Regions from separate parts of the Homo sapiens genome. Here region 2 is linked to region 1. Evidence: fine-mapped expression QTL. Tissue or cell type: prefrontal cortex. Region 1 holds a variant in brackets; the other region holds the start of a gene. All regions are shown on one strand. Distances are from middle to middle.

Region 1 (8,106 bases):
TCCCTCATCGAGCCTGGCAGAGGCAGGCTACACCCAGTGGGCAAAAGCCCACAGGCAGCAGGGCTCAGCAGGGGTGTGGCGGTGCGTCCAGGCCGCACACAGGAGACTGGGCATCACAACTTGCTTCTTTGATGACTGCTGCTTCCTTACTTTGCAGGTTTCTGGATGAAGTTCAGGCATACTCAAATGTCAACAAGATGAGTGTCCAGAATCTGGCAACCGTTTTTGGACCTAACATTCTGCGGCCACAGGTAGAGGACCCAGTAACCATCATGGAAGGTAAGTGGGAGGTGTACCTGGTGGCCCTGGGTGCTGCCGGGGTCTGGGCTCATCTTGGTCCACGGCAAGTCCTTGGAACCATCCCAGCCCAGGGCCAGGCCAGCAGGAGGGGTGGCTCAGGTGGCACATCTCCATCTCTGGGGACTTGGCAGGAACTTCTGCAGACCTCACCCCCGACCCCCATGAGGTTCAGCTATAAGATAAAAAAGGAACTTTGCCCTGCGATGGGCAGCAGCAGGTCACTGGGTGCAATTAGAATAGCCAGGGGTTTCTGTGGATGGAAGAGGCTGGAGGGATGGGAGAGGTCAGCACTTTTGCCCTTGAACACAGACATGTTTGCTTTTCTTTTACAATTAAGCAATTGTCATAGGTTCCTGGATGTCAGCTTTGCAAACCCTGGAGAATTTCTCTATGATAAATAACAATAAGTGATTAAAAATAGCAGCAACAGCAGCCGCTTTCAGTAAGCTTCTACCAAGTGCTTTGTTTGTATCATCTCATTTCAGGCTTTACAACCAGCCTGTGCTGTGGTAATCGCCCCCACTTTACAGATGAGGAAACTGAGGCCAAGAGAGGCGAGGGGACTCACCAGAGGCCAGTCAGCCAGACTTAGCAAAGGGCACAGGTGTAGGCTGCCATAGAAAAGACAGCCCACCTCATAGGGCCCATGGAACACTGTCCCCAGTGGAGTATGCATGAGAGACGTGCTGCTCAGACAGGAAGCCCACAGCTGAGGCTGTTCTTGCCCTTATCCCATGTTGAGGGACGTGGCGGAGTGCTTTTGCTCAAGTCCGCACTTTGGTCAGCCCTGGCTGGGTCTCCCACCCCAGGGCCCCTTGAGGCCAGGAAAACACAAGCTCCTACCTGCCTGGTGGTACAGATGCTTGAGGGAGGAGGCCTGCCCTGCCTGCTTCATGGAGTTCCTGCTTCACCTAGGTTCTTGGCCTCAGAATTCCTTCCTTGACTTCTTCCAGGATTCCTAGTCAACTTCAGTGGGAGAGTCCACCCTGGCACTCAGCCCTCCCTCCTACCGGGGGACCTCCTAGCGTCGGGCCTTTGTGGTGAGGGTGGCAGGAGGGAATGAGGCAGCTGGATAGATGCCCTGGTCCTTCCTGCACTGCCCACCTCCGCTGCAGGCCCCCACCCCACCACCGTAGGAACTGAGTCCCCAGGACTGGGGGCTGCATCTCAGGGGCCTTGGCCTAGACACGGGGGATTGTGTGTGTGCGAGATTATATGTATGTGGGATTCTGGGGGGTGAGCAGGGTGCACTATGTGTGCAGTTGTGTATGGGGGAATTTGGGGAGGCTGCGGAGGGTGCATTGTGTGTGCAATTGTGTGTGGCGGATTTTGGGCAGTGGGTGGGGTTCATTGTGCGATTCTGTATGGGGGGATTTGGGGAGGCTGGGTAGGGGATTTGTGTGTTCACTTGTGTGTGTGTAGGGGCTTTGGGGAAACTGGGTAGAGTGCATTGTGTGTGTAATTTTATGTGTGTGGGATTTTCGGGAGTGGGCATTGTATGTGCGATTGTGTGTTGGGGGATTTGGGGAGGCTGGGTGGGTGCATTGTCCAGTTGTGTGTGTGTGTGGGACTTTGGGGGTGGATGGGGTGCATTGTACGTGTGATTGTGGGGGGTATTTTAGGGGGTGGGCGGGGTGCATTGTGTGTGCAATTGTATGTGTGTGCCCCCACACAGGAAAGATGGCTCTATTCCCTGTCCCAGAGCCCTATGCTCCCAGAGTGTGGACATTCAGGCATGGCAGTTGTCAGCAGCACAGAGGGGTGACGTGGGGCAGCCGAGAGAGTTCTGGCATCTCAGGTCCCAGGTTCCAGTTCCAACCTGCCACCTGCTCACCGTGCAGCCTTGGTGCCTGCTTCCTCACCCCACCCCAGCTGGAGGGCGTGAGCGCAGGCACAGTGCTTCCTCCCTGCTTGCGGCTCTGTGCCTGAGGAAGGCGGTTCTGCGGCCCCATCCTGCTGTCCTGCCTGGAGTTGGAGGGTGTGTGGTCCTTTCCTCTGGGCGGATGAAGGCTCCCTTGAGGGGCGGCCTGGCTCTGGGGACAGGGCCAGCTCCCACGAAGCTGCAGCTTCTCCATGACTGGCAGAGCGAGCCTGGGCCGAGTGGCTGGCAGCAAGGCCCTTCTCCGCCTCTCTTCCCGGCAGGCACTTCCCTCGTCCAGCACCTGATGACCGTCCTCATCCGCAAACACAGCCAGCTCTTCACGGCACCGGTCCCGGAAGGGCCCACCTCCCCGCGCGGGGGCCTGCAATGCGCAGTGGGGTGGGGCTCCGAGGAGGTCACCAGGGACAGCCAAGGAGAGCCCGGCGGCCCCGGCCTGCCCGCGCACAGGACCTCTTCCCTGGACGGGGCGGCCGTGGCGGTGCTCTCCAGAACAGCCCCCACGGGGCCGGGGAGCCGGTGCAGCCCTGGGAAGAAGGTGCAGACCCTGCCCAGTTGGAAGTCCTCCTTCCGGCAGCCGAGGTCCCTATCGGGAAGCCCGAAGGGGGGCGGCTCATCCCTGGAGGTGCCCATCATCTCCTCCGGCGGGAACTGGCTTATGAACGGGCTGTCCTCCCTGCGCGGACACCGCCGGGCCTCGTCGGGAGACCGGCTCAAGGACTCGGGCTCCGTGCAGAGACTCTCCACCTACGACAATGTGCCCGCGCCGGGCCTGGTCCCCGGCATACCCAGCGTGGCCAGTATGGCGTGGTCCGGGGCCTCGTCCAGCGAGTCGTCGGTGGGGGGCTCACTCAGCAGCTGCACGGCCTGCCGCGCCAGCGACTCGTCTGCCCGCAGTTCCCTGCACACCGACTGGGCCCTGGAGCCCTCCCCGCTCCCCAGCAGCAGCGAGGACCCCAAGTCCCTGGACCTGGACCACAGCATGGACGAGGCGGGCGCGGGTGCCAGCAACAGCGAGCCCAGCGAGCCGGACAGCCCCACCCGGGAACACGCGCGCCGCTCCGAGGCCTTACAGGGGCTGGTCACTGAGCTCAGGGCCGAGCTGTGCCGCCAGCGGACTGAGTACGAGAGGAGTGTGAAAAGGTAACTTGCTGCCCCGTGGAGCCTCCTGTGACGGGGCGGAGCCTGCAGGGAGAGCCGTGCTCTTGGCACATGGGCGTCGGCCCCTAACCTCTGGGCCGCTGGCCCTGGAAGCCAGCCTCAGAGAGGGGAATCCTAGCTCTGGGAAAGCCCTAGGACTGGCAGACTTGGCACACAGTCAGTCTGGCACGCAGTCAGTCTGGCACGCAG[TCAGC/C]GCTGCAGAGGCCTGCTGACTCCACGCAAGTGGGAATGCCTGCCCAGCCTGCCGGGGACCTTTGCTGCAGGGGTGGAAACAGAGTCAGTGTGCAGTCTGCAGCCAGGGAGGGGGCGGCCCCTGGAGGCAGGTCCCAGGCTTGTCCCAGTACAAGGGCTCATAGCCTGGATGCTGAGTGCCAGGAAGTGCCCAGGCCCCAGGTCAGCCAGGCTGGAAGTGAGGACCCCTTCCTTGATGGGATCAGAATCCAGTTTCCCTGCTGAACCAAGCCCTCGTGTCCGCCCTTGTCACAGGATGGTTGTGCTGCACCCTGAGGCTTACAATCTCACTAACAGAGGGCCAGAGTTCCAGCCTCCCATGAGGACCGGGGTTGCCCTCTGCAGTGAGGAACCTCAGCTCCTGGAGACCAGGTTCTCCAGCGCAGGGCGTTTCCCTCAGCATCTCAGACTCCTTGGTCCCTCTGGCTGCAGGTCCCCGTTAGCTGGCCGACCTGTTCACCTGGGTCCCACCCACTAGCAGGGAATTCCTTTATCCATTAGAGGCAGTGGATGGAGGTGGAAGGCATTCCTGCTGCCCACTCTGAGCCTGTGATTTCCACTGGGAGCTGGAATGGCAGCCCTTGCCCTTTTGCTCTGCTGACAGCTGTTCCCTGGGTGATGGAGAGTGCCAGGCATGTACAGGCACCATGTCTGCAAAAGGAAGAGAAGGAGAGGGACCTTGAGGGCAGAGGCCTCTGCCATGGGGGAAGTCACAGCAGGCAGTGCCTGAGCCAGGGCTGGAAGGACCCATAGGATGGAGCCGAGAAAGGAAATAGCATCAGTAGAACCCAAGGGCCTCCAGAAATATAGTAGAAGATGCTATCTGCTGCAGATGAGCTCACAGACCAAACTACAGGGTACATGGGAACTCTTACCATACAGAAGGCTGTCCATGCAGAAGGCTGGGCTGGACCAGCTGCGCCAGTTGTGTGCTGAGTGCCTGGAGCTCCTCTGGCCTGCTCTGAGGCCTGGTTTCTCAAGGGAGATGCAGGGCTCTTTGACTCCAGGTCAGACTACTTGGATTCTAGTCCCAGCTCCACCAGGGATTGGCTGAGTGTCCCTGGCAGGATCTTTGGGCCCCAGTGACCTCACCCATTTGTCCTGAGTATTAAGTGACTCACAGTGGATGAGAGCGCTCGGGAAACTTTGCTGCTCGCATTGACTCCTGCCTGGTGGCTGGAGGTAAGATGAGGTTCCCAGAGGAAAAGGGATAGCAGTGGTAGCCCTTGTGGAGGGACTGTACTCGCTAGCAGAGTGGTCTGGGTCGTTGTCTTGGTTAGAGGGAGGGTCTAGAGTGAGGAAGGTCTCTGAGCACAGGAAGGAAGGTGAGGGCATTAGCACCTGTCCTGTCCAGCAGGTGATTGGGGAATGTGTGTCCTGTTCTCTGGAAGTATGGGCCATCGGGTGGGGGGTGGGGTGAGGCTGGCCTTGTCCTGGCTCCCAGGACTCTGGTCAGAGCCCCTCCCCAGGGCCCTGCTGGGAAGTCAGCCTTCCTTCGTGCATTCCCAAAAGAGAACCTGTTTTCTGTGAAGTACCAGATGCTGTGCAGGTGGCCACAGTTGGGGTGAAAACTGATCAAAATCTCTGTCCCCATTCTTATTTGGGTTGCAGGGAGACAAAGACCATAAGCACGATACATTTTTAAAAATACACGGTGTGTTAAAAGGGAGATGAAGGAGGGGAACATAGAGCAGCATGGAGGGGAGCGGAGAGGAGCCTCAGGGTAGAAGGTTGGAGGGCCCTGGGAAGGAGACCCCAGAGCTGCAGCCAGCACTGACCCCAAGACCCCTGTAGTGGGGGAGAGTCAGGGGCTGGGGACTGGAGATGTGTGGGGAGGGGGCAATGGGTGGGGCCTTTTGGCCTGGGCAATGCTCTGGTTTTTCGTGGAGTGAGATGAGAATGAAGTGAGAAGCCGCTGGAGGGTCTTGGCACATTGGGCACTTTGACAGGTGCACCTGGGTGCCATGCCGAGCAGAGCTTGCCAGGGGACAAGGGCAGAACAGACCAGTTAGGAGGTGTGGGGGTCTAGGCCTGACCTATGGGGGGTGTGGCCCTATGGGGCAGCAGGTGGAGGTGGGGGAAGCGGCCAGGTGCTGAGCATATTTTGAAGGTAGAGCCAAAAGGTTTTGCTAACTGATCAGATATGGGACCGAGAAAAAGAATGGACTTAGGGGAGGACATCATTGTTCAGCTGAGCAGCTGAGGGAAGGTGTTCACCAAGAGTGCACCAGGGCTGCGGAAGAGTGGTCTGGAGATGAGGGTCAGGACCCTTTAAGTCAGAGATGCTGATGAAATGGTGCAGGGTCATCAGCGTGTAGTTGGGGCTTGGAGTCTTGAGCCTGACAGAGAAGGAAGAGGGGAGGTCCAGGCCCGAGCCAGGGGCAGCAGTGGGGAGGTGGGTGGCTTCTCTCTGACAGCTGTCTGTGATCCTGGTAGGGAGGGCTCAGGCCATGCTTCAAGCTCAGTGATGAGGATGGAGGCTTCGTTTTGGTGGGTTGAGGAATCCGTGTTTATTCATCATGCACCACGTACCAGGTGCTGTGCTGGCCCCTGGCATGTTCCAGTCCATGGTTACCAGTGCTCTGAGGAGCAGTTACCCTCTGCATTTCACTGTGGCTTGTGTCCTGTCCACAGCCATGTGGCTCAGAGGTCACCAGGCTGGGCATTAAAATCCAGCATATGTTCCCAGGGGCTGGGCTCAGGTGTGTCCCTTCGGAAAGACAGAAGCTGGTTGTCTGGTCAAAAAGATGGCCATGCCAACCTTGGCACACTGCAGCATGAGCCTGCATGGAAGCGTGTGGTATAGGCTCTGGTGGCACAGAGGAGCACCATTGTGACCTGCTGGGGAGGATCACAGGAAGTAGCATCATGGAGGGGGCGCTTGAGCTGAACATGACGGGAGAGCAGGAAGGGAAGTGACTACCCCACAGGATCTTCTGTGGGTCACCACGTGTGGCTGGATCATGGGGACAGTGTGGGGAGCTGCAGGGAGCTGTGGGAGGGGAGGCCACAGCACAGGAGCAAAGGCCAGGGGACAGTCCGAGTCCCAACCCTCCCCATGCAGGGGCCTGTACTGTTCCTACCAGCTGGCAGGGATCCCATACTGCACTGGAGGGGCAAATGCGGACCCAGGGAGGCACCGAAGGCATGGATCATTGTGTTGGCATTTCGGGATCACAGGCCCAGAGGAGCTAGGGGAGCTATGGCAGGGGGCAATTTGCTCATGGGTGAAGTACTGGGGTTCTTGTGAGGAGCAGATGAGCCAGGGTTTCCTCCTGCCGCCATGGCTTGGCCTGACCCCTCAACCCACAGTGAGCACAAGCATGGTATACCCATGGGACAGTGAACCTGGCCCGCAGAGTCTCAAACAGCATCTCTCCTTGACTTTTCAGAATCGAAGAAGGGAGTGCTGACCTGAGAAAACGAATGTCCCGGTTAGAAGAAGAACTGGACCAGGAAAAGAAAAAATACATCATGCTGGAAATAAAGCTGCGGAACTCTGAACGGGCGCGGGAGGATGCGGAGAGGAGGAACCAGCTGTTGCAGAGGGAAATGGAGGAGTTTTTTTCGACCCTAGGAAGCTTGACTGTTGGGGCAAAAGGTGCCAGGGCCCCAAAGTAAAAGGAATGGCAGAGCTCACTTCTGTACCACGTCTGCTGGTCTCCAGCCTTGTATGGAGTTAGAAGCGTCTGTATCTCTGGAGCAGCCAGGCGCTCTGGAGCCAGCTGGAGAGAGAGAGATCCTGATACCTCTGTGGGGACTGTGGGGACTTTTGGGACCCCACACACTCCAGGTGGGATCAGATGCTGCTCCAACCATGCAGTTCCTGGTGAGGGTCAGAAGGGGACGGTACCAAGAGTAGCGCTTAGCCCTTACCCAGGAAATATCCTTCATGGCCACAGAAATGGAGGGCGCCCAGGATCCAGGCAGCCACCGGGAACAGTCAGCTTTCTTTATTAAATGTGCTCACAAAGCATGGTGCCTTGTTACCTGGCTCATTTTTCATGCCTCGCAATACAGGACACAATACAGGACCACTCCTGTTTCTCCAAGGGCTAGGAGCCCCCTGAGGTATGCCCCTGGGTGGAATAGCACAGGCATTGTGAAGTGGGACGTGAAGCCCCCCAAGGGGCAACAGCCTTGTGCTTTCAGCTGTCTCGTCTGCATGTTCCAGGTGGGATGCCTTTCTTTACTCCCCCCCGCCCCGTAGCCATCTGGACCTCTGCAGCTAGTTTCTGTCTTGGGAGGTCCCCTGGGCTTTCCACCATGGCCCTAGCTCTGCTCCAGGGCCAGAGCCTGAGTGGGCACCCAGCACAGATGCTGTGCTTGGGCGAGGTGTGGGCAAGTGTGGCCACTCTACAGGAGGGCTGAGCCAAGGCCATGGGAAACGTCTGTTCACCGTACTCCAGGTGCCTATGCCTCACTCTGGGCGCCTGCCCAGCTCCCTTCCAGCCCCCGCTTCCCTGCTGTTCACCCCCCTACTCTGGCTTATCCACAGACTTGAAGGCTCCATTAGGGCAAATCCCTCCAGAAAG
Region 2 (8,106 bases), 170 kb after region 1:
CCATTCACAATTGCCATAAAAAGAATAAAATACCTAGGAATACAGCTAACCAGGGAGGTGAAGGATTGCTACAATGAGAATTACAAAACACTACTCAGAGAAATCAGACAAGACACTAACAAATGGAAAAACATCCCATGCTCATGGATAGGAAGAATCAAAGTCATTAAAATGGCCTTACTGCCCAAAGCTATTTACAGATTCAAAGCTATTTCCATCAAACTACCAACAATATTCTTCACAGAACTAGAAGAAAACTATCTTAAAATTCATATGGAACCAAAAAACAGCCTGAGTAGCCAAGGCAATCTGAAGCAAAAAGAACAGAGCTGGAGACATTGAGTTACCCAACTTCAAACTATACTACAGGGCTACAGTAACCTAAACAGCATGATGCTGGTACAAAAACAGGAACATAGACCAATGGAACAGAATGGAAAGCCCAGAAATAAGGCTGTACACTTACAACCATGTGAATCTTCAACAAAGCTGACAAAAACAAGCAATGAGGAAAAGACTCCCTGTTCAATAAATGGTGCTGAGATAACTGGCTAGCCACATGCAGAATATTAAAACTGGACCCCTTCCTTACACCATATACAAAATTAACTCAAGATGGATTAAGGACTTAATGTAAAACCAGAAACTATAAAAACACTGGCAGACAACCTAGGCAATCAATACCATTCAGGACATAGGAACTGGCAAAGATTTCATGACAAAGACACCAAAAGCAATCACAACAAAAGGAAAAATTGACAGTGCGATCTAATTAAACTTAAGAACTTCTGCACAGCAAAAGAAATTATCAACAGAGTAAACAGACAACCTACAGAATGGGAGAAAATATTTGCAAAATATGCATCTGACAAAAGTCTAATATCCAGCATCTATAAGGAACTTAAACAAATTTACGAGAGAAAAACAAACGACCCTATTAAAAAGTGGGCAAAGGACATGAACAGAAACTTCTTAAAAGAAGACATACATGCGGCCAACAAGTGTATGAAAAAAGCTCAACACCATTGATAATGAGAGAAATGCAAATCAAATCCACAATGAGATACCATCTCACACCAGTCAGAATGGCTATTAATAAAATATGTATAAAGAAACAGATGTTGGCAAGGTTGCAAATAACAGGGAACACTTATACACTGTTGGTGGGAATGTAAATTCATTCAACCATTGTGGAAGACAGTGTGGCAATTTCTCAAAGACCTAGAGACAGAAATACCATTTTACCCAGCAATCCCATTACTGGGTATATACCCAAAGGAATATAAATTGTTCTATTATAAAGACACATGGACATTTATGTTCATGGCAGCACTATTCACAATAGCAAAGACATGGCATCAATGTAAATGCCCATCAATGACAAATTGGATAAAGAAAATGTGGTATACATACTCCATGGAATACTATGCAGCCATAAAAAAGAATGAGATCATGTTTTTCATGGGAACATGGATGGAGCTGGAGGCTATTATTCTTAGCAAACTAATTCATGTACAGAAAATGAAATACAGTATGTTCTCACTTATAAGTGGGAGCTGGATCGTGAGAACTATGAGCACAAAGAAGGAAACAACAGACACTGGGGTCTACCTGAGGGTTGGGGGGGTGTGAGTAGACAGAGAACCAATAACTACTGGGTACTGGGCTTAATATCTGGGTGATGAAATAATCTGTACAACAAACCCCCATGACATGAGTTTACCTCTGTAACAAAACTTCACATGTACTCTCGAACCTAAAATAAAGTTTTTTTTTTAAATGATCATACGCAATAAAGAATTTTGACAGGAAAATAACCTTAAAAAATAAAAATATATAAAATATAACAAAATTATATAGGGAATGACACAGAGATAACTCAGAGAGAAACTATTAGCTTTGATAACTTGAAAAACAAAAACACATTGATAAAATTTTTATGCAAAAAAATGGACTTAATGAAATGTTAGCAGAGCAACAATAGAAGGGGGTTACTGCTAGTATTTTTAACAGAAAAAGTGAAAGTGGTGGTGACTTTAAGCAGACCAGCATTTACCTGTTGGCAGATGACTTAGGTGTTGCTTTTTGTTCTGTTGTGAACGAGCCACATGACTGGAGAAGTCAACTTTCTTCTTCTGGGAGAAAGGTTGCGTGGTCAGCCTGAAAAAATTACTAAATAAAAATTACCTGGACACTTGCTGAAAATACAGATGCTCTGGCTCGGGCCCAGAGATTCAGGTTCAGCAGATTCAGGGTGGTGCCTGGGAATCTGCATTTTATCGTCTTCAAGGCTGAATCTGATGAGAAGACAAGTTTGGAAAAAACAGTAAAAGATTGTTGCAGATATTGTGAAATGTTTTGCTAGCTAGCAGGGAATGTCAATATAGATAGCTTTAAGCAGAAAAAAATGTAAAACATTGTGTTTTTTAGTTTTTTTCAAGTAATATAACATAAGGTTATAGGGGGAAAATACCAAAATGAACAATAATTTTCCTGACTAAATAATGAGCCAAAACTCTTTCCCCTAGCAACCACTATTAAGTTGCTTGTGATTCCTTCCAGAACCACAAGAATATGTCTACATAATATTCTAATATACTACAGTGTATAAAGAATATGTATACATAAATATACGTAAATATACCTGGTCTTTATGTACCTATTTGTAATAAAAGGAAACATACTAGGCTATTCCATACCTTTTGTCACTTAAAGAATTTTCTAGGCAATTGTTATATGCCAGCACACACAGATCTACTTCCTTCCTTTACACAGCTGCATAGCTGGTTTTCTACTGTGTGTGAACTACAATAATCACTGTTGATGGGCACTTCAGTGGCTTTCAGTTTTCTGCTACTACCAAAATACACTGCAAAGAGCATCCTTTCTCAGATGCTTTGGTGAACTTTTGCAAGAATGTCCATGGGGTTACTTCTTAGCAGCTGGGTTTACAAAGGATATGTACATTTACAAATTTGATGAATATTACCAAATTCCCTGCAGAGAAGTTGCACTTATCTGTAATCTCACTATTGGCATATGAGAGTACTCATTCTCCATGCCCTCACCAGCACTGAGTTTCATCAGATTTTTTTTTCGAGACAGAGTCTCGCTCTGTCACCCAGGCTGGAGTGCAGTGGCCCGATCTTGGCTCACTGCAAGCTCCGCCTCCCAGGTTCACGCCATTCTTCTGCCTCAGCCTCCGGAGTAGCTGGGACTACAGGCACCCGCCTCCAGGCCCAGCTAATTTTTTGTATTTTTAGTAGAGACGGGGTTTTGCCATGTTAGCCAGGATGGTCTCGATCTCCTGACCTCGTGATCTGCCCGCCTTGGCCTCCCAAAGTGCTGGGATTACAGGCATGAGCCACTGTGCCCGGCCTCAAATTTTAGTATTTTATTCTGTAGTCAGGCAAAAACTCATGTTTTCTTTTTAAATAAATACGTCTCAGTTTTGACACTGCTATTGATTTAAAGGGCTTGAGAGATCTGTTCTTTTGCCCCTTCTACTACAGAGCTATGATCTACTTCTTGCTGTTCCCCATCTCTGCTGGTTCCTTTCTGAATCCAAGCACCAGAAAGAGTAAGAATTCCTTTCCCCCTTTCTCTAACCACATTTTTCTTGCTTTCTCACAGACAGATCCAGGTTATCATTTCCTCCTGCTGCTTTCACATGGTTCCCTGTCCTGTTGGTTGCAGGTCCAATGTCTGACACTATGAAAGGGCATGGAGGACTCTTGAGTTGATGACACTAAGCCTCTGCTCTGGGGCTGCCCCCAGTTCCTTGCAGAGCTCTTTCTTTTGATTGGGCCAGGAGATAAAGAGACATCAGCGTAAAAGCCCTGCTGAGCAGCAATCCCATTGCCTTCAGTGGCACCTAATCCACTTGAGCTCTTCCTGGCTCTCTCACGGGTCACTGGCTTTGAGGACGCAGGCTGCTGGGGTGGCAGTGCCTGCTAACAGGCCAGAGACTGCGCAGGACCCAGGGAATGAGAGTGGTGGCAGGAAAGGGAAGGGGCCTTGTTGACTCACTCGCTGGGCAGCAAGTGCTTAGTGACAAGCAGTAAACAAAGACAGCGGCAACAGTGCTGGTGGCAGGGAGCTCCGCGGACAGACTTGCAAGAGACCCCTGCTCCTTGTTGGAAAGTTGTCCCATGATGAAGGCCTAGACCTGGTCACGGAGACTTTTGGATGCAGCCTTTAACGAAGGACGCAGGTATTCCTTGGCATCATTCAGTTTTCTCCTATAAATCTGGTCAGGGAAAGGGCAAACTTCTTACTGGGTCTAGGTATCCGGAATAAGAAGAACACAGCTGGGCAAGGACCTGTGTCAGTGCCCTTTGTGGTATTATTTGGAGTATTATTTGTTCCAGGCCATTGGCTAAGCCTGATAGACATTGTATTTGTTTTTTAGCAATAAAGAATGGGCTCAGAAGAGAAAACATGGACTTTAGAATCAGACCACCCCTTGTTTGAATCACTGCTTTGCTATTCAGCATCTGTGCAAATTCAAATGACTCTTTTAACTTTCCTAAGACTCGTTTTTCTTACCTGTAAAATGGGGATAATAATGCCCCATGCGTTACGATGTTGCTGAGGATTCATGGGGTGACACGCGTAAGGCACTTAGAACATACTTGGAGCATTTGAGTAGCCCAGTAAATCATGGCTGTCACTATCTTTCAGAAGCAAGTGTTTTGGTTATTGCTTAAAGAGTATCAGTGGTTTAAAGTAAGAAGACTCAGGGTATGCCTAGCTGACTTCCAGAAAACAATGGAAAAGAAATGATTCACCTGGCTTTATTTGTATGCTTAAAGGAAAGAAAAAACTCAGTTGAGGTTTTCAACAGTGTAAACAACTTTTTTTTTTTTTTAAAGCAACAATTGAGTTCAGAGATGAGTCGTGTCTATTTCTCCTGGCTAAATCCTGTGATTTGCTATAGGCTGTAGCTGAAACCAATTAAGTAGTTCATTAATTCAACGAGAACTTACTTGGTATCTCCTGGGGCCACATGCCAAATGCTGGGGATGTCTCCCCCAGCCCAGAGGATCTTCCAGGTTGTAGGACAGTGGGGGTCGGGGGGCAGAATGCTGGACCTGCATGAAAACTGGCGGTGATAGCAAGTGCCGAAATGGAGGTGGCACGGGCTCCTGGGAGAGGTGTTGCTTGAGCATGGCTTTAATGCTAAGCGAACACTAGCAGGAGTTGGGAGCAGGGGGATTGGAAAAGGCATCCCAAGCAGAGAAAAGCACATGCAAAGGCCCAGTGGCATGAATAAGTAAAGCATGCTCTGGGAACAGCAGGCAGTTTGGCCTAACTTTAGTAAAGTGGGAACAGGGGAATCTGATAAGAAAGGAGGCTGCAGAGGTGAACAGGGGAGAGCAAGGAAGGCCTTCTATGGCCCAGAGTTCACTCAGAAGGTCCCAGATAGGCACTGGTAGTTTTAATGAAGGATGTGTCGTGTCTGCATTTAATATTAAGAAGATTAATCTAGTAGCAATATGGGTGTGGGATTGGAGAGGATGAAACCTGGAATGATGACAGATGGCCTAACCTAAGAAAACAACAGTGGAATGTAGAGAAGGGGAGGTCTCCAAGCTGGTGCTGCCAGCACTGTGAGCAAAAACAAATACATATGCATCTAATAAGTTCATTATAAATTTTACTGATATGAAGGATGTATATTGCACAATTTACAAGTAATAAAATATAAAATACTCTTTATTACAAATTCTATATAGCCATTTGATTCTCACAGCATGCATTTGTTGATTTTTGCTGAACTCTTATACCCTTGGTCAGCCTGTTTGCAATTGACCACTGAATGTAGTTCCAATATGAATGTTGGTTGATATTTTTGTTTACATTGACAAGTAAGAAGAAAGTGAAACAATGAAGATGATTGTCTTAACTTCACTCATCTGTCAATGACATGAGTGACTGCTGGATCAGATCATAGTTTTTGAATTTGGAAGAGTGTTTTCCCAATTTTTGTGTTATTCACAATGTAACAACTATGGACGCGACACACTTTTAGGTTTAATCTGCATGAACATTTTCTCCATCACTTTCTTAGTTTTCTTAGGGAATGAAAAAACAGCAAACCAAGCCCTAATTTGTAGCTTTTGCCAATTTTTGTGGTATAAATACTACCACCATGGCCAATCACAAGCTCCCAATGTGATATCGCTGAACACAAAGGTGGAAGGGCTGTGCACCAGCACACCATTACACAGTATTTCCATCATAGAAATGTATTTCATTTAAATAAGTTCCAAAGCACAGACAACAGTAAAATGCAGTAAAATAATTTGGAAATGGTGAGTTTCAACATATTGTTAATATAACTTATTTAATTGGAGATTTTTATAATACTTTTTGGTAATGGCTGTGTTTAATGACCAGCTTACAAAATTTCTGGAAATTTAACAATTGGCTCTCACAGGCCAGTAGGAGCCTTCTTCAGCATATCACAGAATCCAAGAAAGGTTTAAGGAGCAGAATACAGAGTGGTGAGAAAATGACTCATGGGTGCAAATGAAGGGGGCACGAAGGAAGAATTAGGAAGAATACTTCCTTCTCTCTGGGGATGAAGCTGTCACTCACCAAAATGTTGGACTTATTAAAAAGAACACCATGAATAGATGACTATGAATTCAACTGCTCAGGAATAGCAAGGGCTGCGGTGTGCAGCCCAGGACAATGCTACCTGCAGCTCCATTAGTGAAGTCATTTCTGGTCTGAAACCCCAGTTTTGCTGGCTTGTCTCTAGCCTATTCCCTGCCCTCTCCATATACTCAGGATTCATAATATGAATAGCTAGGATTTATTGAAAAACTGCCATATGCCAGACACAATAACTCATGGTATAAACGAGTAAAGAGAGGAAGTAACTTGCCCACGGTGAGGTGGGATCAATCCAGCTCTGACCTCGGAGCCTGCTCTTCCAGCCACTATGCTTTTCTATTCTCATTCCCCTCCTGAATTGTATTCACCCTGAGATATCAGTGTTTTTAGCTGCTTTCCTGGCAGAAGTCTGCTTTCGAGGCTGATTCCTATTCCTCAGGCTTCCTTTTACTGGTCGCTGGCAGCTCTACTGTTAACTGCCCTCCCTTTTTTTTTCTTGCCTTGGCTGTAAGCCTCCTTATTCCTGTATTTGCTTGAGCTATCATAGCCCAACATTGTTGGAAATAGAGTAGGTAGTGAAGGGAGGCAGGAAGGAGATGTGTAGGATGGTGCACAGGAACCAGTTCCAGGAGGGCTGGTGCCAGGCAGGAGGCAGATCAAGGCTGAGCTGTCAGAACTCACTCTTCAATAGATTCAAGATGGGTTAAACAGTGTCTGGCTGGAGAGTAAATGTATTAGACATTTTAAAAAAGTGCCATCTAGGAATTTCTTTTGTTTCTTCTATCAGTATCATTTTTGTATGATGCCAGTCCAGAGTGCAGGCAGCATCTGAAGTATTCACTTGTTAATTTACTGAGTCATTCAGCCAGTGGGGGAAGAAGGAGCTCCAGATGCGAGTGTCCCCACAGAGCCTGCAGAAGGACAGGAGGCAAGGGGGTTGTGGTGCGTCTAAGGCTGGAAAAAGGCCATGGGGGAAAGAGGAAGCTGCTAGAGATCAGTCCAAAGCGGTGGGCCTGAGGTCCTGCAAATCTTGCTCAGGATCTGAGCTGATCCTTTGGAGAATAGAAAGTGGCTGAAAGTTTTCACGAGGTGTGACATGGTCAGATTTGTGTTTTAGGAAGAGGACTCTGCAAGACAGAGAATGGATCAGGGCAGGGGCAAGGTATGGTTGTAGGAAACCATTTTGTAGAATTTACATTTCAGTGGTCATTCAGGGGAGGGTGCTGGTGGCTTAGACCAGGTCAGTGGTGGTGGGGTTGGAGAGAAACAGGCGGATTTTAGAGAGATTTTGGAGATGGTGATTAACGGGCTGGGAAGTTGAGGGATGGGAAGGAGACAAAAATGTCGTCTGAATGTTTGGCTTGAGGGGTTAGGTGGTGGGAATGCCATTTGCTGTATTCAAATAAGAGAGGTTGAAAGAGGAGGAGGTGGGGGGAAGGTGAATTCAGCTCTCTACATCTAAGGGGGTTGTCTAAAGGACAT

The links. PIP is the estimated chance that this variant, and not a neighbour inherited with it, causes the effect.
Region 2: it holds the start of FRMPD2, and the variant in region 1 is fine-mapped to the expression of FRMPD2 in prefrontal cortex (GTEx, PIP 0.97).

What each region holds. Positions count from the first base shown.
Region 1 is chr10:48,445,477-48,453,582 of GRCh38, reverse strand. It overlaps ARHGAP22 (Rho GTPase activating protein 22), which reads left to right. Exons shown (of 10, transcript NM_021226.4): 8 at 158-279; 9 at 2,443-3,322; 10 at 6,964-7,547. The coding sequence ends at 7,192. Among named protein-coding and RNA genes, the nearest start is that of ARHGAP22-IT1, 62 kb to the left of the region's middle. RefSeq lists an enhancer at 7,514-8,106. The variant TCAGC/C (reference allele first, on the strand shown) is at 3,530.
Region 2 is chr10:48,270,650-48,278,755 of GRCh38, reverse strand. FRMPD2 (FERM and PDZ domain containing 2) reads left to right here and starts at 4,060. Exons shown (of 29, transcript NM_001018071.4): 1 at 4,060-4,213. The coding sequence starts at 4,189.